Regions from separate parts of the Homo sapiens genome. Here region 2 is linked to region 1. Evidence: fine-mapped expression QTL. A gene starts in region 1. The other region holds a variant in brackets. All regions are shown on one strand. Distances are between the middles of the regions.

Region 1 (11,800 bases):
ACTACAACATTTATTAAGTGCACCCCAGCTTCTTAAAGCCTTCAGATGTCCCCAAATTCTAGCCTTAATTTAAAGGAAACATATTACTGTAGAGCTGGAAGTCATTTTATTTTCATTTCTTTGTTTTCATAGAATCCTTGCCCCATTGTTTCCTGAGGTTTTTCCTAAGGAGATTAACCTTGTTAATAACCTTTTCCATTACCCATATTAGCATTTATGATTAATGATTCACATTGGCATTTACTAGCAATGATTTAGGAGTAGATAATGCAGTTTGTCGATCACAAACACGTTCACAGTTCTGGGGCTGCTTCATTTTTCTCCTTATTAGCTTTAGAGCGAACAGGGAAAGAAAATATGGATGCAATACTAGAAAATAAAAAGTAGGCCTGAAAGGGGCATCTTTACGTCTTGAACTACCATATCATTCCGCAGAAATGTAGGGATACTCTTCTAGCTTAAGGAATAAGAGGAGTCTATTTACCTATTTGTTAATAGGTTAATACTGGTTAATTTTTGCTCTACATGTAAAATAACTTGCCTATGTCCTACAGTAAAATGTCCACAGTTTTAAAAATAACATGAAGAGTGGATATTTTTCAACAAATTGAAATCAATCAATGTAATGCACCATGTGAAAAGAATAAAGAACAAAAACCGTATGATCATTTCAATAGACACAGAAAAATCATTCAACAAAATCCAACACCCCTTCATGATAAAAATATTCAAGAAACTACAAATAGACAGGAACTTCCTCATCCTGATAGAGGACGTTTACTAAAGCCCACAGCTAACATCATACTTACTGATAAATGACTGACAGTTTTCTCCCTGAAATCAGGAACAAGACAAAGATGTCTTTTCTCACCACTTCTATTCAACACTGTAATAGAGATAATAGCCAGGGCAAGACAATAAAATAAAAAACCATCTAGATTGGACAGGAAGAAATAAAACTATCTCTACTTACAGATGACATGATCATGTGCATAGAAAATTCTAAGGAATCCACAAAAAAATACTAAACTATAGAGTTTAGCAAGGTTTCAGGAAATCAGATCAACATACAAAAGTCAGTTGTTTTTCTATACACTAGCAAGGAAAAATCCAAAAATGAAAATAAGAAAATATTCCATTTACAATAGCATCAAAACTAATAAAATATTTAGGAATGAATTTAACAAAAGAAGTGCAAAATGTGTGCACTGAAAACTACAAAACATCACTGAAAGAAATTTAAAAATACCTAAATAAATGGAAGAAATTGTATATTCATGGATTAGAAGACTTAATATTGTGAAGATGGCAATACTTGCAAATGGCTATATACACACAATGCAATCTCTATCAAAGTTGCAACTGCATTTTTTGCAGAAATTGACAAGCTGATCAAACTTTGCCTGGAAATTCAAGGGCTGAAGAATAGACAAAATAAAATTGAAAAGTTGGAGGACTCACATGTTACTATTTCTAAACTTACTACAAAGCTATACAGTAGCTTGATTACACAGTGTGGTACTTGCATAAAGATAGATATATAGATAAACAGAATAAAGTTAAGTCCAGAATTAAAGCCTCACATTGATTTTTGGCAAGAGTGATAAGATCATCCAATGGGGGAAAGAATAGTCTTTTCAACAGATGATGCTGGGACAACTGGATATCCATATGTAAAAGAATGAATGTGGACCCATACCTCATACCATATATACACAGTAACACAAAATGGATCACAAACTTACAGGTACCAGCCAAAGCTCTAAACCAGGGGTGTCCAATCTTTTGACTTCCTTGGGCCACGTTAGAAGAAGAATTGTCTTGAGCCACACATAAAATACACTAACACTAAAGGTAGCTGATGAGCTAAAAAAAAAAATTGCAAAACAAATCTCATAATGCTTTAAGAAAGTTTACAAATTTGTTTTGGGCCACATTCAAAGCCATCCTGGGCTGCCTGTGGCCTGCAGGCCACAGGTTGGACACGCTTGCTCTAAACTCTTAGAAGAAAAGAGGTATAAATCTTCATGACCTTGGATTAGGCAACAGATTCTTAGATATGACACCTAAAGCACAAGGAATCGAAGAAAAAATAGATAAATTGGACTTCATAAAAATTTTTAAATTTTTGTCCTTCAAAGGACACTATCAAGAAAGTGCAAAGATAACCCACAGAATGGGAAAAATAGTTGCAAATCATGTATCTCAGGGATTTGTGTCTAGAATATATAAAGGACTCTTAGGACTCAACGATAAAAAAAGATAACCCAATTAAACAATGGGCAAAGGCCTGGACGTGGTGGCTCATGCTTATAATCCCAGCACTCTGGGAGGCCGAGGCGGTTAGACTGCCTGAGCTCATGAGTTTGAGACCAGCCTGGGCAAGGTGGCAAAACCCTGTCTTTATTAAAAAAAAAAAAAAAAAAAAAATTAGCCAGGCATGGTGGTGCAGGCCTGTAGTCCCAGCTACTTGGGGGTTGAGGCAGGAAGATCACTTGAGCCCAGGAGGTCGAAGCTGCAGTGAACCATGTTCACACCACTGCACTCCAGCCTGGGCGACAGAGGGAGACCCCGATCTTTAAAAACAATAATAATAATAAATTAAAAATAAATAAATAAAAATGGGCAAAGTATCTGAATAGAGATTTATCCAAAGAAGATATACAAATGGCCAATAAGCACATTATTTGCTATGAGAGAAAATGCAAATCAAAGTCACAACAACATTCCACTTCACATCAAATAGGATGTTCTAATGAAAAAGACATCTAACAACAAGTGTTGGTGAGGATGTAGAGAAATGGGAACCCTCATACATTGTTGGTGGGAATGTAAAAATGGTACAGCTGCTTTGTAAACAGTTTTACAGTTCCTGAAAAGTTTAAACAGGCCAGCATGGTGGCTCACGCCTGTAATCCCAACAGTTTGAGAGGCTGAGGTTGGAGAATTCATCTCTGAGGTCAGGAGTTCAAGACCAGACTGTGCAACATAGCAAGACCTCATCTCTATCAAAAAATTTAAAAATCAGCTAAGCGTCGGGGAGCTTACCTGTGGTCCCAGCTACTCGGGAGCCCTGTGTGGGAGGATCACTTGAGCAGTGAGCTATGATCATACACTGCACTCCAGCCTGGGTGACAAGAGTGAGACACCGTCTCAAAAAAAAAAAAAAGTTTAAATATAAAGTTACCAAGTTATTGGAGTAACTTTATATTTGGTATATCAATATAAAGTATTGGTAACTTTATACTTGGCATTGGAGTTGCTGGGTCATATGCCAAGGGATGGGGTCATATGCCAAGGGATGAAATACACATCCACACCAAAACTTGTAAATAAATGTTCAGAGCAACATTATTCATGATAGCCAAAGAGTAGAAACAGCCTGTGTCCACCATCAGATGAATGAATAAAATGTAGTAGATCTGGCTGGGTGCAGTGGCTCACTCCTGTAATCCCAGCACTTTGTAGGGCAAAAGCAGGTGGATCATCTGAGGTCAGGAGTTCAAGACAAGCCTGGCCAACATGGCAAAACCCCGTCTCTACTAAAAATACAAAAATTAGCCAGGCATGGTGGTGCAGGCCTATAATTCCAGCTACTAGGGAGGCTGAGACAGGAGAATTGCTTTAACCCAGGAGGCAGAAGTTGCAGTGAGCTGAGATCCTGCCATTGCACTCCAGCCTGGGTGACAGAGTGAGACTCTGTCTCAAAAAAAAAAAAAAAAAAAAAAAAGTGGTACATCCATACAATGGAATATTATTCGGCCATAAAAAAGGAATACAGTACTAATACACGCTATAGTCATGGAAGAGCCTTGAAAACATTATGCTAAGTGAAAGATGCCAGACACAAAAGGCCACATATTGTATGAGTCCATTTACATGAAATGTCCATAAGAGGCAAATCCAAAGGACAGAAAGTAGGTTAGTGGTTGCCAAGGGCTGTGAGGAGAAGGTAGCAGATACTGACTACAATGGATAGGGGGTTTCTTTTTGGGGTGATGAAAATATTCTAGAATTAGATATTGGTGATGGCTATACAACCTTGTGAATATACCAAAACCCAGTGAACTGTATACTTTAAAAGGAAAAATCTTATAGTTTGTGACTTATATTAAGATCTCAATAAAAAAGATCACATATTTACAAATGACTAAAGAAAAAGTCGCAGTTTAAATGGATGTATACTAGGACTGCATTTACAAATTTAATCAACCATTATTTGTGGTTATCCCTGCCAAGAATTTCACAATTAGCTCAAAAAATTGAGAGGTAACTGTTAACCCCAAATATGAAAAGTATCATACATATATCTTACCTAGCGCACTTTGCTATGATGACATAATAAATTAATTCAAAGTCAAACATACCTATTTCTTTAGTTATGCTAATTATATATTTTATAGTGAAGTAGCAAAGCCTTAAGAATATTATTAAATTGGCATTTAACATCTACATTCCCTATTAATGGGTCATAATAAATCAGAACTGCAAATTGGTTGGATAATGGTCTGCACTGAGATCCAGACACCTGATTCCCTCATTTCATTCTGTAATTTCAGTTAGTTAACAAGTACAAAGCAACTGTTGTATTAGTGCACCATCTTGGGTAGTTAAAAATTCTAATTTTAAACAATATCCGCCATCCTTTTCATTACCACTAATGTTATAGAACTATATAACATTGGGAATATATATATAACTATATAACATAGCCGACTGCTAAATAAAGAAAATACCACATATAGATTCTGAATTTGAAAGGAATCTATCATGTCTAGATTCTGCATTTGAAAATAATCTATCTTCACTTCAGGGGACAGGAAAAAGTCTTGGAGTTCCAAATACCCCCAGTGATTTTTGGAAGTATTTACTGACATAAGATAAACTGTTTACAATTGTGGAGTGAATGCTCTTTTCTCTGAATCTCTGACTTCCTGTTTCTCTTCCAAATCCCAAAAAGGAAAGAAAAAGAAATGAAAGAATTATTCTACTTAGGCTTACCCTGATGAAGCGCAGCGTTAGTCTCTATGATATTCTTTAGTTTTTGCCTCTTAAGGGACAGCTTAACTGGGCTGGGTAATCGTGTGTGTGAGTGTGTGTGTGTGTGTGTGTGTGTGTGTGTGTGTGTGTGTTAAAAGATCTTTCTCGACGAGACTGAGGCATGCCTTGTTTAAGGAACCTTCTGACCACCACCTAGCCACCTAGCCCCACTTGGGCAACGCCTGCCCTTCGGTGACCCTGCCCAGAACAGCCGAGCTCCTCACTACATACTCCTCTGGGACACACCGCTGTGCGGGCCAGGCTTCCAAGACTGGCATTTTCACAAAGAAAGCAGTGACCCTCAGGTAGCCCACCACCAGAGCTTTTCCAATGTAAGTGGTTCGACTTCTATTTCCACAGCGTTACGCACAACAATATCGACGGGTAAAAAGTGTTGTCCTTTAAAAAGTGCCCCACTAACTTCGGGGACAGTGGTTTCCGGGTAGGTCACCTTAGGGTGCTTTGACGTGCCAGCAACTCGAGGTGTACAAAATGCTTCTTTAAAGTTTTGAGTTTAAAGTTTCGCCCCGGAGATCCTGGTGGATCTCCCGAAGCCTAAGGCGAGCGCGGCATCCCTGACCGCGCGGGTCCCTCGGCTCGGGGACCCTGGGCTGCCCCGCTGCGCCCCCGGGACCGCTCGCGCCGCGCCAGAAGCCCGGGCCCAGTGTTTCCAAACAGAACGTCACGGGAGCCCACGGGCGCGAGGGACCGCCGGCCACCGCCCCCTGCCCACCTCTCCCGGCGACATCCAGACTTGGGGGCCGACTCTGGGCTGTGGCGGGAGGTGCAGCGGCGGATCCCGAGTCAGCCCGCTCCGTCCCTCTCGTCCCCGCCTTCCCGCTCCTCCCGGCGCCCCAAACCTCGGCCCCGCGAGCCCCCCTGGACGGGGCGCCCTCAAGGGGGCGGGGATCCCAGGGTGGCAGGAACTCTGGAGTGGCCCCTCGTCCCCGGGCTTTCTCACCTGTCTATCTCAGCAGCGGGTCCCCGGCCGCAGCGCCCGATGTCCCGGCCGCGACTGGCCCCCGGGATCCCCGGACTCTCAGCCCGCGCCCGCCTCAAGCCGAGCTCGGAGAGGGCGGGGAAGGGCACCGCCTCCTCCAGGGACTGGCAGCCGGTGTAGCCAATGGGAGACCACAGCCGACCACCGGGCGTCACCGGGGGTGTGGCTATAACTTTGGCTCCTCCCAGTCCCTGCCCCAGGAGGGAGCTCTGTCCTGGAGTGGTACCCCTAACGTCCCAACTGCGAGACTCCAGAGCTTGCTGCAGCGGCCGGTCACCTTCATTCCACTCCGTCTGCCTGGACTGTTGCAGCACCCTCCCTTGGTCTCCCAGTCTGAAGTCTCTCCTCTTGCCAATCCACCCTTCATCTTCCTGCCAGGTTAATTTCCTTAAGAGCAGTTTTGATGAACAGTGTGCCAAAGACTTTCATTGGCTTCCGTTTGCTTAAATTATCAAGAACAGATTCCCTAGTCTAGTGTTCAAGGTCTCCATCCCGTCTTTTCAGGTTTATTTCTCACAGCTGCCCTTCACACACCTGAGACTACTGCTGTGCACCTCGCCACCCGAAGGAAGTGGCACTAGGAGCGTTTACATGCTATTTCCTGTCTCCACTTCAAAAAGCTCAGAATAATCTTCTCACCGGGCGCAGTGGCTCACGCCTGTAATCCCAGTACTTTGGGGGACCGAGGCAGGTGGATCACTTGAGGCCAGGAGTTCGAGACGAGCCTGGGCAACATGGTGAAACCCTGTCTCTACCAAAAAAAAAAAAAAAATATATATATATATATATATATATACACACAAAAAAAAAAAATTAGCTGGGCTTGGTGGCGCTCACTTGTAGTCCCAGCTACTCAGGAGGCTAAGGCTGGAGGATTGCTTAAACACAGGAGATGGAGGCTGCAGTGAGCCGCGATCATGCCACTGCACTGGATCCTGGGCGACTGGGCGAGATCCTGTCTCAAATCATCATCATTATCATCATCATCATCATCATCATCTTCTCCATGTAACTATGTCTGTCGCTCCACCTGGCAGAAATGTCGTCTCTGGGCCGGGCGCAGTGGCTCATGCCTGTAATTCCAGCACTTTGGGAGGCCGAGGAGGGCAGATCACGAGGTCAAGAGATCGAGACCATCCTGGCCAACATGGTGAAACCTGGTCTGTACTAAAAATACAAAAATTAGCTGGGCGTGGTGGTGCACGACTGTAGTCCCAGCTACTCGGGAGGCTGAGGCAGGAGAATCGCTTGAACCTGGGAAGCGGAGGTTGCAGTGAGCCAAGATAGCACCACTGCACTCTAGCCTGCCTACAGAGCAAGACTCCATCTGAGACAAAAAAAAAAAAAAAGGTCTTCTCTGGTTTCTGCTCCCTGAACATCTAGATTTTTGCCTCTCTTGGGGCTTAGCTCCCTCTGCCTTATGCACAGCTCCTCACATCTCTTTTAGACTGTGAGCACTTTGAAAACAAGGATTTGTGGTTTTTTTTTTTTTTTTGCATTCTCCTCAGCACAGAGCATATTGCATAAGTAAATTAGTGATAATTTAAATCCAGGTGAATTTTACATCCCAACTTAGGGTCTGGAGAGGTCAATCTCAGGGTAAAATAAAGAGAATTCTGAATGTTATGGATAATCGTTCCCCAGGTCACAAAGCTAGGTCAGACAGATTATTCTCTTTGGTTCACAGTTGGCCAATAGAGAGTATCAGAAAAACTTTTTCTACTACAATCTTTTTTTTTTTAACTTTATCTCATCTTATATAAAACACACACACACACACACACACACACACACACACACACACACACACACAGAGGATGGGCACAGTGGCTCATGCCTGTAATCCCAGCATTTTGGGAGACCAAGGCGGGCAGATGACTTGAGGTCAGGAGTTTGAGACCATCCTGGCCAACATATCGAAACCCCATCTCTACTAAAAATACAAAAATTAGCTGAACATGGTGGCATACGCCTGTAATCCCAGCTATTCAGGAGGCTGAGACAGGAGAATCGCTTGAGCCAGGAAGGCAGCAGTTGCAGTGAGCTGAGATCGCACCACTGCACTCCAGATTGGGTGACAGAGCAAGACTCTGTCTCAAAAAAAAGGAAAGAAAAAACCACAAAAGAGATAAAGATTTTCAAAGTTTCTCAGAGGAAAAGCAATAAGTGAATACAACTAAAAGTCCAGTAAGCAAGTATCAGGCTTTCATATTTCTTCCAGATGAGCATTAATTTTGAACAGGATCCCAGACTACCCCCACACATCAAATTCCTTTTGCCTTCTGTGGGAGCTGATGATGCATATCATATGAAAAATTGTCTTCAAACAGCTTTGGCAAACAAGCAGACTGGACTGGGCTTATTTTATAGAGCACGCAGGAGTTAAACAAACAGAGTTTCAGTAACTTGCATAATTTAACACAGCAAGTCAGTAGAGACCAAGCAGGAGAAAGAGAGAAAGAATGCCAAAATAGAATCACTTCCGTTTGTGAGTCAGAAATACTAATTAGACTAAAAGAACTGAGTGAATAAAGTCACTCATGAAAAGCCGCTTTGTAAACACGGCTGCCACCCTTGTAAGGCTTAGCCAATATTTACTTACTGTCACCTTTTTCTAGAAACATGACAAACTGAATTTGTCTGGGTATGGAGAATACAGCGGAACAGCATCCTATCTTTGTCTATGCTGAGAAAAACACATGGTACAATGGAATATTATTCAGTGGTAAAAAGAAATAAAGTACTGATACATGCTACAACATTGATAAACCTTGAAAACATTATACTTAATGAAAGAAGCCAGTCATTTAAAAGGCACATACTGTAGGATCCCATTTACATGAAATGTTCAGAACAGGCAAATCCATAGAGACATAAGTGGATTGGTGGTTGCTTAGGGCTGGGAAGGATCGGGGTGATGGCTAAGACAAGTGAGGTTTATTTTTGCGATAATAAAAACATTTATGGTGATGATTACACAACTTTGAACATACAAAAAGCCATGGACATACGCAATTTAAATGGATAAACTGGATGTTATTGAATTATATCTCAATAAAGATGTTTTAAAAAAGAAAAACATGTTGAATTTTGTGTTTTTACGTTAGGTAGCAGGGATAGAAAATGTTAGTAGCAATAGGCACCTTTGTTTTATAAGCATTAATCTAAATTGTGATATTATGTTTATTTGTGATTATTTTGTCTGTTTTCCCCCCCACAAGACTGTAAGTGCCAGAAAAGTAGAACAACTGTTTTTGCTCTTTAATGTATATCCAGTATCTAGCAAAAATCATAAGTCAAACCACCGTAAATCAGGAACTGTTTATACATCTCAACTTCTTTCAAGAAATTGAACCTACAAGGTCTAACAGCTGATTAGAAGGCGGATTAGAAGGGAGGCTTTGTGTCTGCATTATCAGGAAATGATGGTGCCATTTACAAAAGTAAGGAAGCAAGGAGAGGGAACAAGAAGAATGAGATCTGGCTTGGAGGTACTGAGCACAACTTGAGGTGCGAGTGAAATATCCAGGAGAGAGCCAAGAGAAAATCAGTCAGGCTGAGCTGGGGAGAAGGTTTGAATTTGGGTGTACATTTCAACGTATACTTCTGCATAGGGGGAGATTACTGTAAATTGTAGAATGATTGCTGGCCATGTGGCCATTTGGCACATTGGGAGCAAGGACAGAGGGGTTGAAGGGAAAAGAGGTACGGAGCTGGGTAAATATCAGGGAATAAGTATCTGATCCTTTAATCCACCACACATAAAATCCAAAAAGAAAGAAGGAGGGCGGAGACACTATCTCCACTAGAATAAGCTTGTGGCTTCTGGCACGGAGAAAGTATAAACCCCAGCACCTGGGAAAAGATATCAAAGACAAGGGGAAGATTTGGAAAAATGAATAGAGCTAGCAGGAACAGCTCTCTCTAGCTGAGGAGGGTACAGGTCTGGGCACTCCAGGCTGTTTACCTGCAACCTAGGAGACCAGAAAAGCCTTGGCATGAAGGAGGCCCTACAAACAAGGAGACAGACAAGCATCCTGGCCCTCCCAGTGGGGGTGGACCAGGAAAACAGTTTCTTTGATGTGTCCCCAGTGTCCAGAGCATACTGGCTTGCTCAGTCCTTTGGGTCTGCAACGAAGGCAGGATTTGCTTCAATCTCACCTCCCCAGGTGAGCTGGGCCCCCACTATCACAGATTGGTTGGGGGTAGCATAGGTGGTGCCAGAACTGGTGAAGGTGAGAGACTAATGGGCATTGCTAAGGTCATGAAAAGAAAACAAGTGTGTACAGAAGCATAACAAAAGCACAGAGGTGGGTACTTTGAGCACCACTTATTTTAAGGCAACTGAAAAGAGGAAAAGAATTGTTGAACCAGACTGAGGGAGAGCCAGTAATAGTTTGTTCAGGACCCATGAAGTTAAAAAAAAGAAAAAAAGACACTGGACATTAAAATCACACAGGAAAGCTGGGCAGGGTGGCTCACGCTTGTAATCCCAGAACTTTGGGAGGCCAAGGAGGGCGGATCACGAGGTCAGGAGTTCAAGACCAGCCTGGCCAACATGGTGAAACCCCATCTCTACTAAAAATACAAAAAAAATTAGGCAGGCGTGGTGGCATGCCCTTGTAATCCCAGCTACTCAGGAGACTGAGGCAGGGAGAATCACTTGAACCTAGGAGGTGAAGGTTGCAGTGAGTTGAGATCTCACCATTGCACTCCAGCCTGGGTGATAGAGTCACACTCTGTCTCAAAAAAAAAAAAAAAAGAAAAAGAAAGAAAGAAAAAGAAAATCACACAAGAAAACAGTGATCCAGACAGTAAAAAGGTGTTAAATGTGAACAGATTATTTTTCTTGCTTGGGGTCAGTACCTACCAGGCAAAGGCAGCCATTCTGGTACAGAATCTTATTACGGCTGACAGCTAACAGTCCTCCTTCTCTCTCTATATGGTGCATAGAGACAGCTTATGCCAGAATTAAGGGAACAAAGCAACGCAGCAAAACTGACCACGATATCCCCTGATGCTAACGGTTAGAGAAAAGACACACTATAAGAACATTATTATGTGCTGTGTAATAATTGTAAAATGAAACTGCGTCTTCAAAAGACTCCAGAGAAAGCTGAGGTCAACAGGATGGTAACAAGTACAGAATGCTCAATGGGGAGGCAGGACTTGAACTGGTTAATCAGAAGGATCTGGTTACTGCATTGTTAGGGTTAGGGTGAGGCAAGGTCACAACAGGAGGCACTAGCCTGTGAGCACGAGTGAACGGATGAATGAATGAATGATTGATGGTGGTATTCACGAGGGAGATTGAGCCGTCTTGCCCAGCTGGAGGGGAAAGAAGTTTGGCATCAGCTGATATCCGGTTCTACCAGATGACATCGAAGTATTGGGAAGCAGGTCCAAAACAACATAATCAGAAGTGACTGTTACAGTTTCTTCTATTATATCATTGTCTGTGGAATATACTATGGAGATTTCAGAACTTGGCAGAGTGGTTGAAGACATACAAGTTGAGCATCTCTAAATGGAAAATCCAAAATCCTAAGTGCTCCAAAATCTGAAAGTTTTTGCATGCCAGCGTGACATCAGAAGCGGAAAATTCCACAACTGACCTCATGTTATGAGTCTCAGACAAAATGCAGGTGTACAACACAGTTTATTTAGCATCCCCAAAGGAAAACGACCCTCCCAGCCCTCTTCAGGTATGATACAACTTTTCTGTGCACACACAGATTCCCCATGCAAACATACCCACAA
Region 2 (11,800 bases), 74 kb before region 1:
CAGTCCCCTCCTGGCCCCATGTCCTTCTCTGCCAACTTGGGTTTCCATGTTTGATCACGAAACAACTCTTGCTCCAGGGCCTGTGATTATGCTGTATTCCTTTGCTTCTAACAAATCCACTCAACAAAATTCCATTTGCTTTTAAATAATCTAGTGAAGAATGTGACAAGAGACAGATGGTTATAGGAAATAATATTAGCCATAATTAATAACTGTTGAAACTAGATGATGAATATATGAGGGCTCATTATATTATTCCCTCTATTTTCACATACATTGGCAATGCCCATAATAAAACATTAATTTCAAATATCATCTTGAAAGATACGTGGTAAAGCAAGTAAAATGTTGATTGTAGAAACAAGGTGATGGGCATATGGTTGTACACTGTAAAATTATTCTGCTTTTTTGCATATTTGAAAATTTATATAATAAACTGTTAGAAAAAACCACTATCCTCACTTCACTACAATGTAAATTCTCTGCTCCTTTTTCTGGGCATCTGAAGATGTTAGAGAAAAATATTCGATAAAAACTCAAATCAGAAAGTCTGGTGGGCCTTCAATAATACTTACCAAGCCTTCTATTTATCCTTGGGTACATCCTACTTTCCTGAATGATTATTCTCCACCCTTTTCCCCACTCTTAGTAAATAACATTGTCGTACGGAATAATGTTCATTAAGAAAACTGAGGATATTAGACATGATATCACTCAATGTCCTACAAACTTAAGATACTTTTCTGCACCCTTCCTCACTTTTCCTCCAGTTTCAGCCCTTCCAGTGTGCCTTCCCACTATGTCCAGCCACCCACTTCTTCTGGACTTTGTCTTTAATCCCCCTCCTCCCTTCTTCCAGGGGCCTTCCCCTTAGTTTGTGAACTCAAGGTACATCTTTTCCACCCTAAAAAATGCCTCTCCTGACTCCAGGTTCCCTCCAGCTTGATTCTAACATACTGAAAGGTATAGATAGTCCTTGAAACTCAAATACTTCACTTATTAATCTCCCATTTACCCTTCAACCCACTGAAGGCAACGTACCTTCTTCTCTGAGCACATGTGACACTAGATCAGTCACAGGCATTACTCTCAGACCTCTGCACACATCTCCTTACTGTGCCCTTAAATTTACAAGTGTTACCCTGCTCTCCCCTGCCCTACATAATTTCCCATAATTGCCACATGTATGCTGATGATTCCTCGAATCCTTCTCTCCAATCCAGCCCTCCAGCACTCTTCTCCGATGTAGACTGGTGGTCTGCTGCCTGCTGGACTTTTTAACTAAGACATCCTACCAGCTCCTGATGTCTTCCAAAATCACCTAATCTTCCTAAAACTGCTCCTCTTTCCTGAGCTCTCTCTTATCTGCTATCATCTTTCTACCAGGCATCTTTATCTCTTCTACTTCCTAACCCCAAATTCAATCAAACTAAAGATTTTACCTCTTACCATTATTTAAATTCATCCTCTCCTCTCTTTTCCTGTAACCCCTTCAGAGTTTCATCCTCTTCATAGGAACCACTCCCTTAACTGTTCTTAGAACCTCCACCTTGCCTCCCACTGATTCATCTTCCTCTTAGCAGAGTAATCTGTTAGCAACATGAATATGCCCATGCTCCTGTTACAAACCCTGCAGGGTTTCAAATATCCTTCAGGATAAAGACCAAAGTCCTTAAAAAGACAAAAATAGCTTTCCACCATCCATAGGCCCCTCTAGCTTTTTCTCCAAAGGACTTGTTCCTAGTGCAGCTGGCACTGCTTCGAGATTTTTTTTTTCTTTTTTTCTTTTTTTTTAGACGGAGTTTCATTTGTCGCACAGGCTGGAGTGCAACATTGCAATCACAGCTGATTTCAACCTCCATCTCTCAAGTTCAGGCGATTCTCCTGCCTCAGCCTCCCGAGTAGCTGGGATTACAGGTGCCCGCCAGCATGCCTGGTTAATTTTTGTATTTTTAGTAGACGGGTTTTCACCATGTTGGTCAGGCTGGTCTCGAACTTCTGACCTCAGGTGATCTGCCTGCCTCAGCCTCCCTAAGTGCTGGGATTACAGGCATAAGCCACTGCTTCAAGACTCTAAGCCTTCATTCGCGCTGTCTCCTAGCCTAGAGTACCACCCCTCCACCCATTCCCACTTGGTATAACTAACTCCTACTCCTCCTTGAAGACTCGGCACAGGTAAATCTTCTCTCAGAAGTCATTACTGACACATCTCAATAATTGTACTTTATATCATTGTAAATAAGCTTTTGTCTCCCTCTTTTTTAATAGATTATGAGGCTCTCTGAGGAATGGGACAGTGGCCTATTCATCTTAGTATCTTTCAGCACATTGTGCTGCATGTGGTAACTGCGTAATACATTTTCGTTTTTTAAAGAACTGAATTTTTATATAGAAAATGTTTTTCCTAAGCATTAAAATAAAAATTGCAAGAGTGACTGTCTAGAATCAAATTAGTCAAGTTCTTAGCATCTACCTATATTATTCTGTACTTAATAAAAACAATGTGACAACCTGAGAAAACTTCCTCCCCTCCAAGGTATTCAAATGCAATTTGACAGTATCTCATATTGCAGCCTGAATGTGAGCTCAGAACAAGTCACTCAGAATAACTGAGGGAAGCTGTTCTCTCATAAGGTTCTAAGGGTGAAAATATGGGGGTGGACAAGCACAAATGGCAGGAAGGAAACTTAATAAGCATCCTGGCTATAAACCCTAATGATTTAGTCATCTGAGAATCCCATCGACTCATACTCATTTAAAATGCAATTGTGAAATGGGAAGTGGAGAATCGCAGAAATGTTATAGGAGCAGAAACTGACATGCCTTGCTGATAAAGTAAAAACAAGCAAGCAAACAAAATCCTAATTGTGGGGGAAGTAATAAACCCTTAGCCATGGGATCATCTTAAACTCTCAGGGTTTGATATGCATATGAGGTCCTTGAAACAAGAGCATAGCTCATTATTATGAATTATAGTAAGAATGTGATTTAAAGTAGCAGTGTGTTCACTGGAAAAGTATTGTGCAAATATTTTGTTCCCTAACCCATCAGTAACTAAGAAAACATTTTCACAGTCGTATTTTAGAAAAAACATAGTACATAGTATATTTCTTTGTTTAATGCAATAGTGAATTAAGTTTTACCTTTGCTATAGTTGGTCAGTCTTTTTAAATATTATGGAATAACACCCACCTACATTCCCACATTAATAATAAGTATAAACTACACAGTAGCATAGTTACTTTCCATCTAATTTTCCACCTCTTACATAATCAGAGTACATGAATGAGGAGTGATTATGTGTGTATACATATTTTGTTGTATTTTTCAAAAAGTGACCAATAGGACTTTTTAAAACTTAAAAATAATATTAAGTCAATACTTACTCATTGTAAAAAAAAAAAAAACAGAATTAAGCAAAAATAAATAAAATCACAGAGATAACCAATATACTTTGGTATATTTCCCAGACATTTTTCTATAAATACTTACAACAAATAAGGTATAATAATGTAATACTGCACTCTACTTATTACCTAACAATACATCATATTTCTATAGCATTAGATATTCTTTTACAACATTTAAAAGGCTGCATAGTAAAGCATTATATGGTTGTACAAACATTTTTTAAAGCTATACCTTACCCTACATCTAATTTGATCCCAATTTTTCTTTATTATGAACCATGCTGTGCAAGGAATCTTTCTGGGGTAATGGAAATGTTCTGCATCTTGATAGAGTCAAAAGTAAATAGCTTTCAAAACTAGTCAAACTCTACACTTAAGATCTGTGCATTTCAGATATATTAATCATACCTCATTTTTTAAAATAGGAAAAAAAACATGCTGTGAGGAACATCTCATAATTAAATCTTTTGCAAATTAAGACCACTTCCTAAGGATAAATTTTTAAAACTGAGATTGCTGGATCAAAGGAGATATATATGCGTGTGTGTGTGTGTGTGTTGATTTGATATTGATTTGTTCACTCAAAATTATTGGCTAAGTTAACACTTCAGCCAAGATATTGCCAAACTGCCTTTTAGAGTAATGCTCTCACTAGCAGATTTCTTTTTTTTTCTACTGCCTATGTAATTGCAGAAACTAGCAGATTTTTTAATCTGTGTCAATACTAGGTTTCAAAATTTGTAAAAACGTCTTACTTTTCACCAGATTTTAAAAAGTGCCACCTCTTATTTCAATCTGTGCTTTTAAAAAAATTGAGTGACAGTAAAATGTTTTTCCATATGCTTATTGATCATTTGTATTCCTTCTAACCTCGATGATCTCTCTTTCCTGCCCATTGAGTCTTTTGTTCCTTTTCCCCCAATTGGTGTTCATTGTTTGCTTACTGATTAGAAAAAAACGTGTTAAATATTAATGATATTAACCAGTTTTCACATGTTTCAAATACCTCTTCAAAGTTTTTCAATCCTTCTTTTAAAAATTCTGCTCGTAGAATTTTTAATAGAGCCTTTACATTTTTACATATTATAGTCAAATTTGTCTTCTTTTCATCTTTATAGTTTTTGCCTTGGGCATCATACTTAAAAACACCCTTTCCTATCCCCAAGATCATATCAATATTCAATATATGTATATGCTCTGACATCCCATTTTCAGCGATCATGGGCTCATGCCCATAGCTGCCTGGGACATTGCTATGCACAGGAGGTTCCTACCTTAGTGAGCAATCCCTTCATGGTGGGTTTGCCCTCAGGCTGCAGGGAAAGTGGGTTGGCAGCTTGTACTCGAAGAACATTCTGTAACACTTTAATCCACTCTTCCAATATATTGGGAGAATCTGCAGTCAGATAGTATGTGTGTTTTTCAGTGGTCAACTAGAATGCAACGAGAAAGGTATAGGAAAGAAAACTGTGAAGATTTAGGATTGTTAGCATTTCCTTGTTCATTATTCAAACGTCATTACTTAACACAGAAGCAAACATGCTAAATCTCAAGTCCCAGTTTCTAAATAAATGACTCCATATCAGTTAGAATATTTTAACCACTTTGTGAGAATTACAGCAATTAAATTTTTGTGGAAATAACTTTGTTACTCCAGTTTACCTAATTTTGGGGTTATGATTTTATATCTTGTTTATTTGTCACATTTTCCCTTTCTTGCTTAAATGTGTTACAGGTTCCTACTTTTCTTTTTTTTTTTTTTTTGAGACAGAGTCTCTTTCTGTCGCCCAGGCTGGAGTGCAGTGGCGCCATCTTGGCTCACTGCAAGCTCCGCCTCCTGGGTTCACACCATTCTCCTGCCTCGGCCTCCCGAGCAGCTGGGACTTACAGGCACCTGCCACCATGCCCGGATAATTTTTTTTGAATTTTTAGTAGAGACGGGGTTTCACCGTGTTAGCCAGGATGGTCTCGATCTCCTGACCTCATGATCCGCCTGCCTCAGCCTCCTGAAGTGCTGAGATTACAGGCGTGAGCCACCGCGCCCGGCCAGGTTCCTACTTATTGAAATGAGGAGCAGAATGATTAAAGACTATAATAAAATAGCATAGTTTTAGCAACTAAAGAAGAGGTTTCTTAATACAAATGACAAAATCAACTATAAATAAAATAAGAAGATCTTGCATATAAGAAGATAAATTATTGGAACGAACATGTGATTAGATATTATGAACTCAGAAT[G/T]TTCCAGTCTCAAATTAGCCACACTGCAAATTTTCCAAATTTCAGAAACTTACAAATGATTCTTAACTGCCATGCCCAAAGACAAAGCTTTCCTTGATTCTCCTTTCTAAATTTTTGAGAGGTTTTCAGGTACAAATCACTGGAAACATTGATAATGTACCTTTCTGGCAAAGTTGTCCTCCACCCTCCAAAGGAGCAATATAAGAAAATAATGGTTATTGAAGACATTTCAGAAATAAAGTGTCTGACTTTAAATTACATATACTAGAATATCTCAACAGCCTGTGTTTTAAATTTAACAGATTTCTGGCAAGACTGGCCTTATGTGTGAGTAAAATGGGCAGCAGCTGCCCCTACAGTGTGACTTGCTTGGCAGCACACTCCCTCTGCTCACCAATATATTTCCCACTTTGGTGTTATGGCATCTGAAGTTCATATAAGAACTGTCATTTTCAGATTCTATATTAAAATACAAACATTCCTGAATTTCACAGTACATTATATAACTAACATCTTATTGAGAATTCATTTACCAGATAACCCTTCCTTAAAATAGCTTCACAGTTGGACAGCTGAAAATACCTAGGAGATTAAATATGAGGAAAGAAGAGTATAAAGGAAGAAAGGTAAAGTGTGGTGGGAGTTACTCAACACACACCTAACTTACATTATAGTTTTAACCAAAAATTCGTGGAGTTTCACATACTTCCAAGGCATCAAACTAACCCCCCAAAGTGAATAAAGAAACACTGAATTATCCTATCTCCTTTCCATTAGGTTGGATAATTGAGAATTGAGTCTGGCATGATACAAAAAAAAAAAAAAAAAAAAAAAAGTTAAGTACCTGAACTGTTTGTTTGTTATCTCCTCTTAAAATACTACAGGATGCACTAAGTTCAATATGGCCCTGGGGTTTTCTAATTACATCACTCTGTATGAAACAGAAAAACAAATGGAAAGTGATTAACTTTAACAGTAATAATAAGGAATGCTTTGTATCATTACTTGCATTATGGGAAGGAAATCAATCAGGCGTCTGATTTATAGTTTGAGGAATTACGTTCTAAACAGAAAACACTTTCCACTCACCGGAGATTTGTAGTAAAGTAATTCACCACCTTTAAGAACAAACCACCGCCGCTTCCAAGACTTGACTTTACCACTCATTTTTAATAAATAACCAGATTTTTCCAGTGGTTCCTAATTTTTAAAAGATAGACAAAAGCATTTTCAGTTTCCTTTTGGAGGCTCAATCTGACTGACTGCTTTTTAAAAATCATATTCAATATTTACATTTTTCCCATTATCACTGGAAGATGAGCAAGTTTTTGGGAGCTTCTGCTCTGGCTGTGAGTACTCCGTGTCTGTGGAGTAAGCATCAGGAGGAATAGCATAATCACTTTCAGAAGCCACAGAGGAGAGAGACACACCTAAGAGAACAAAGAAAGAAATCAAGTCAGTATTTAATACTGGGGAGGGCCAAACACCAGCTCTGAGTGCTCCTACAGAATGCAATTATTCCTAAATCATAAGCCTCCCTAGACTAGATTTATTCTCATTCCTTTGGCCATAAATAACTTTTTTTGAGACAGAGTCTCGCTCTGTCACCAGGCTGGAGTGCACTGGCACAATCTCGGCTCACTGCAACCTCTGCCTCCTGGGTTCAAGCGATTCTCCCGCCTCAGCCTCCCGAGTAGCTGGGGCTACAGGTGTGCGCCACCACGCCCAGCTAATTTTTGTATCTTTAGTAGAGATGGGGTTTCATCATGTTGGCCAGGATGGTCTCGATCTCTTGACCTCGTGATCCGCCTGCCTTGGCCTCCCAACATGAAGAACTTTTAAAGCAGAAAACAGAACTAAGAGGTAGGGACTGTCATGTAAATCTCTAAGGAAGTGAAAGGAACAGGAATAATATTTTGGTATGATTACAATCACACAGCTATTTTACATATATAAAATATATGCAAGAGTCTACTCATGTATATTTTATTAAGAATTAAAAATATGTGTATTTACACATTGACATATAGGCAAACAAATGTTGAACCTTAATTTATCAAGATTTTCACAATCACATTTTAAATTTCTTAACTTCTGTAATCACTTTTAAAGTAACCTCACATTTTAAAAAAACACAATTCAGTAGTATTTTTTCATTCAAGTTCCATAAGCTACTAAGCAGTTTACAGATTTTAAAAATATTTCATAAAAGAGAAACAATAAGATTGAAAGATATAAACAAACTATTTCTTTCACTTGCCAGCAGCTATAACATAAAATTCAATGGAACATTTATACAATGATTCATTTGCCTTTACAGAAAACTACCTGGGAGTTGCAAGCCACATTTCATGAGTCACTACAATTGGAGATTTAGAATATATTAAATAAAATCAAGGACTTAGGTAATTATTTATAAAAGTATCCAGCAATTTTTAAAAATATGTATTAACATTTAAGGGACATATTAGAACAATGCCACTCTTGTGACACTGCTTTTTATTTGACTCAGACAAGTAACAGTTGCTATAATATCTTCATTTTTCATAGAATAAACAAAAATGTAGACCTATAGGGACCTCAGTGATTGTCATGGCTAAGGCCCAAGGAGACTAAGGCCCAGAGATTAAAGGATTTGTCCAAAGTCAAAGAGTTAGGCAGGGGCAATGTTGGAACACAAGTCTCAGGCTCCCAGGACCAGGGCCAGTGTGCCAGGCACTGTCCTAGATGCTAGGGATAGAGCAAACAACAAAAATATTGGCTCTCGTGGAACAAATTCTAGCGGAAGGAGACCACTGACAAACAGGCAGTAGGTGGTATGGAACAATAAAACATAGAGCAGACTAAAGGGAATAAAAAGAGCTGGCAACAGAAGAAAGACAAAGGGCTGCAATTTGAGTGGTGTGGTCAGGGTGGACCTCATTGAGAAAGCAGCGTTTGCTGATGGAGGTGAGGGAGTCAGCTATACGGACATCTAGGGGAAGAATACCAGCTGGAGGAAACAGCAGTGCCAAGGTCCTGAAATGCAAGCATGCCTGGCATGTCTCAGAACAGCAAGAGGGCCAGTGAGACTGGAGCTGAGTACAGAGAAGAAAGGAGATGAGGTCAAGTACGTGACCGAATCCTGGAACACCTTATAGCCGTTGTGAGGAGCCACTGCAGTGTTTCCAGCAAAAGTGTGTCATAACCTGATTCTGGCTGTAGCGGGGCAAGTTGAGAGCAAGAAGACCAGTGGAAGCTCAAAATATGAAACCAAGGAAGGCTGAGCAGCTCCAGTTGAAGCCGAGGGGATTGGAAGTATCCAGAGGTTCCATGGAACACAGTTTGAAAGCCAACAGACACACCATGCTGCATTAAGGGCTTTTTATAACATACAGATGTCATTTGGTGGAATTAGATCTCTCTGTAACCACTACCTACACACAGAATGTCTTCAAAATCCACTAAAAATCATAGACATATTCCAAGTAAATGTTGTTCTCCACTTTAACATCAGATTAATTGACAAATTTTAAGGTATATTTTCTGCCAGTTAGCAGTGTAACAACTTTAGCTGAAATAAGTCTATTTCACAAATGCCAAGAAAGAAACCTCATTTTGGCCAATTATCTCACTTCATTCCAACAATAAAGTGATCTCCCTCTCACAGACAATAAAAAGCTGAAAAAAAAAAACTATATAATTTGTCTGAAATCACAGAGAATTAAGAAGAGAATTAGGAATATAAACATATCAGTCATAGGCTAAAGTTCTTTTCACTAGGGTCTGAAGCAAGTTCTTGGATTTAAAAAATAATCCTGTAATGGAGATAAAATTCCCAATTAATATTCAGAATGATCTGGAGTTGCCTCATATGCCTGCGATTTTCCCTCACCTCGTTTCATGGCTCTGGGGCTGCCTGGCCCACTCCTACTGCGTGAGTCTGACTCTGACGTCCGGGAGCTGGATCTGGAGCTGTCTTCTTCCTCTGACCCAGATGAGTCATCCAGGAAAGGGCTGCTACTTATTTGGGTCGCCTTCTAAAGAAAAGTGGAACAACCTCCCTGTATCCATCCCTAATGTTACCACTCATCCAAGAAAAGGCTGCTAGTTATTAGGGTCGCCTCCTAAAGAAAAGCAGAGCAACCTCCCTGTATCCATCCCTAAGGTTATCACTCTTTTTAGATAACAGAAAGTTTTACAGGAAGAAGTCATAGCATAGAATTTTTTTTTTTTTTTTTTTTGAGGTGGAGTCTTGCTCTTGTCACCCAGGCTGGAGTGCAATGACATGATCTCGGTTCACTGCAACCTCCGCCTCCCAGGTTCAAGCGATTCTCCTGACTCAGCCTCCTGAGTAGCTGGGATTACAGGCACCTGCCACCACGCCCGGCTAATTTTTATATTTTTAGTAGAGACAGGGTTTCGCCATGTTGGCCAGGCTGGTCTCGAACTCCTGACCTCGTGATCCGCCCGCCTCGGCCTCCCAAAGTGCTGGGATTACAGGCGTGAGCCACCGTGCCCAGCCAGCATATGATTTTTAAAAGGAATTTGGGAATGTATTTTGCTGTTATCAAAATCATGTTGTTAAACCCTGAATTCTAATAAGCAATTATAAAAGATGCCTGAAAATATAAGGTTGTCAATACCTGCAATCCTTCTTTTAATTAATACTTCAAGCAAGGAAGGGGTACCCTGGCACTGATACAAAGATCTGCCTAAATTAGGAGTTTTCATTACATTATTAATAATATGTCTCCTTTAAACAATTCATGGCCATGGGGAGGTGGGGGAATCACATGGGACACAGTAAAAACTGACTCAGACCTCTAACATTCTGATAAGTGTCTTCTGCAGACCTTTCCATTCCTTCTTTTTTATGATATGTTAACGTGAACTTGTAAAACTTTCTATAAAGGGAGAGCCTGTGTAAAATGTTAAGAATGGAATCTGGAGCTTGAATTAACAATTTCCTTGATCCATCATGAAGAGAAGCACATGTTTTAACAATAACAATAATGAGTTACCCCCTTCAAAGTTGTATACACTGGGGTGGTCATGTTCTTGTATATCAGAGATGTATAAAGTCCTGATGTAGTATAGGAAAGGGTTGCAGCAGAATCTGAAACAGAAAAACAGGAAACAACATTTTAAAAAACTTCTAATTAGCACATTGGTCTTTTTCTTATGAATACAAATGAGCATAATCTCCATTTAAAAAGCAATTCGATTAATACATGATTACTAACTGTATAGTCTACTTTACAGATTATGGCATTTACAGGTTTATTTATACACTTTTTTACATGGTTCATTATTTCCTCATGTGTGCTAGTTCCCCAACTAGACTGCAAGCTCTTTGAGAGCAAGAACCATAGCTTTTATTTCCTTGAAATCTCCATGCATGCTTTGCTCAGGCTGGGCAGAACTAAGTACAGGCAACTGCTTACCAACCAATTCAGTAAGCAGTACATAGGAAGATATTCTCTGACTATTCATAACCCTATTACCAGCATGGTATCAAAACCACTGTTCTGGTGGGGCATGGTGGTTCCCATCTGTAATCCCAGGACTTTGGGAGGCTGAGGCAGTGGATCGCTTGAGCCCAGGAGTTTGAGACCAACCTGGGCAACATGGCAAAACCCTTTCTCTACTAAAACCAAACATGGTGGCATACACCTGTAATCTCAGTTACTTGGGAGGCTGAGGCACAAGAATTGCTTGAACCTGGGAAGGGGAGGTTGCAGTGAGCCGAGATCATGCCACTGCACTACAGCCTGGGCGACAGAGCAAGACTTGTTCTCAAACAAAAACCAAAACCAAAACCACTGTTCTTAAGCCTTTATCAGGTAAATCTGATGTTGAAATATTGGAATGTAATTTCCTAGCTAAGTGTAGTGGCTCACACCTGTAATCCTAGCACCTTGAGAAGCTGAGGCAGGAGGATTGCTTAAGGCCAGGAGTTTGAGACCAGTCTGGGCAACACAGTGAGACCCCCATCTCCACAAAAAATCTTAAAAAGTATCAAGGCATGGTGGTATGCACCTGTCATCCTAACTAATCAGGAGGCTGAGGCAGGAGGATCGCTTGAGCCCAGGAGTTCAAGGCGGTAGTGAGCTATGATCACACCACTCCACTCCCACCTGGGTGACAGAGTAAGACGCTGCCTCAAAAAA

What was found.
Region 2: its variant is fine-mapped to the expression of PLEKHH2 in thyroid (GTEx, PIP 0.98). The same link has a PIP of 0.9 or more in esophagus muscle and tibial nerve.

Annotation. Positions count from the first base shown.
Region 1 is chr2:43,631,581-43,643,380 of GRCh38, reverse strand. PLEKHH2 (pleckstrin homology, MyTH4 and FERM domain containing H2) reads right to left here and starts at 6,121. Exons shown (of 30, transcript NM_172069.4): 1 at 6,002-6,121. RefSeq lists a silencer at 5,888-6,217.
Region 2 is chr2:43,705,268-43,717,067 of GRCh38, reverse strand. It overlaps PLEKHH2 (pleckstrin homology, MyTH4 and FERM domain containing H2), which reads right to left. Exons shown (of 30, transcript NM_172069.4): 10 at 10,652-10,746; 11 at 9,523-9,667; 12 at 6,942-7,078; 13 at 6,738-6,848; 14 at 6,493-6,579; 15 at 4,685-4,843. Among named protein-coding and RNA genes, the nearest start is that of C1GALT1C1L, 35 kb to the right of the region's middle. RefSeq lists a silencer at 1,844-2,043. The variant G/T (reference allele first, on the strand shown) is at 5,649.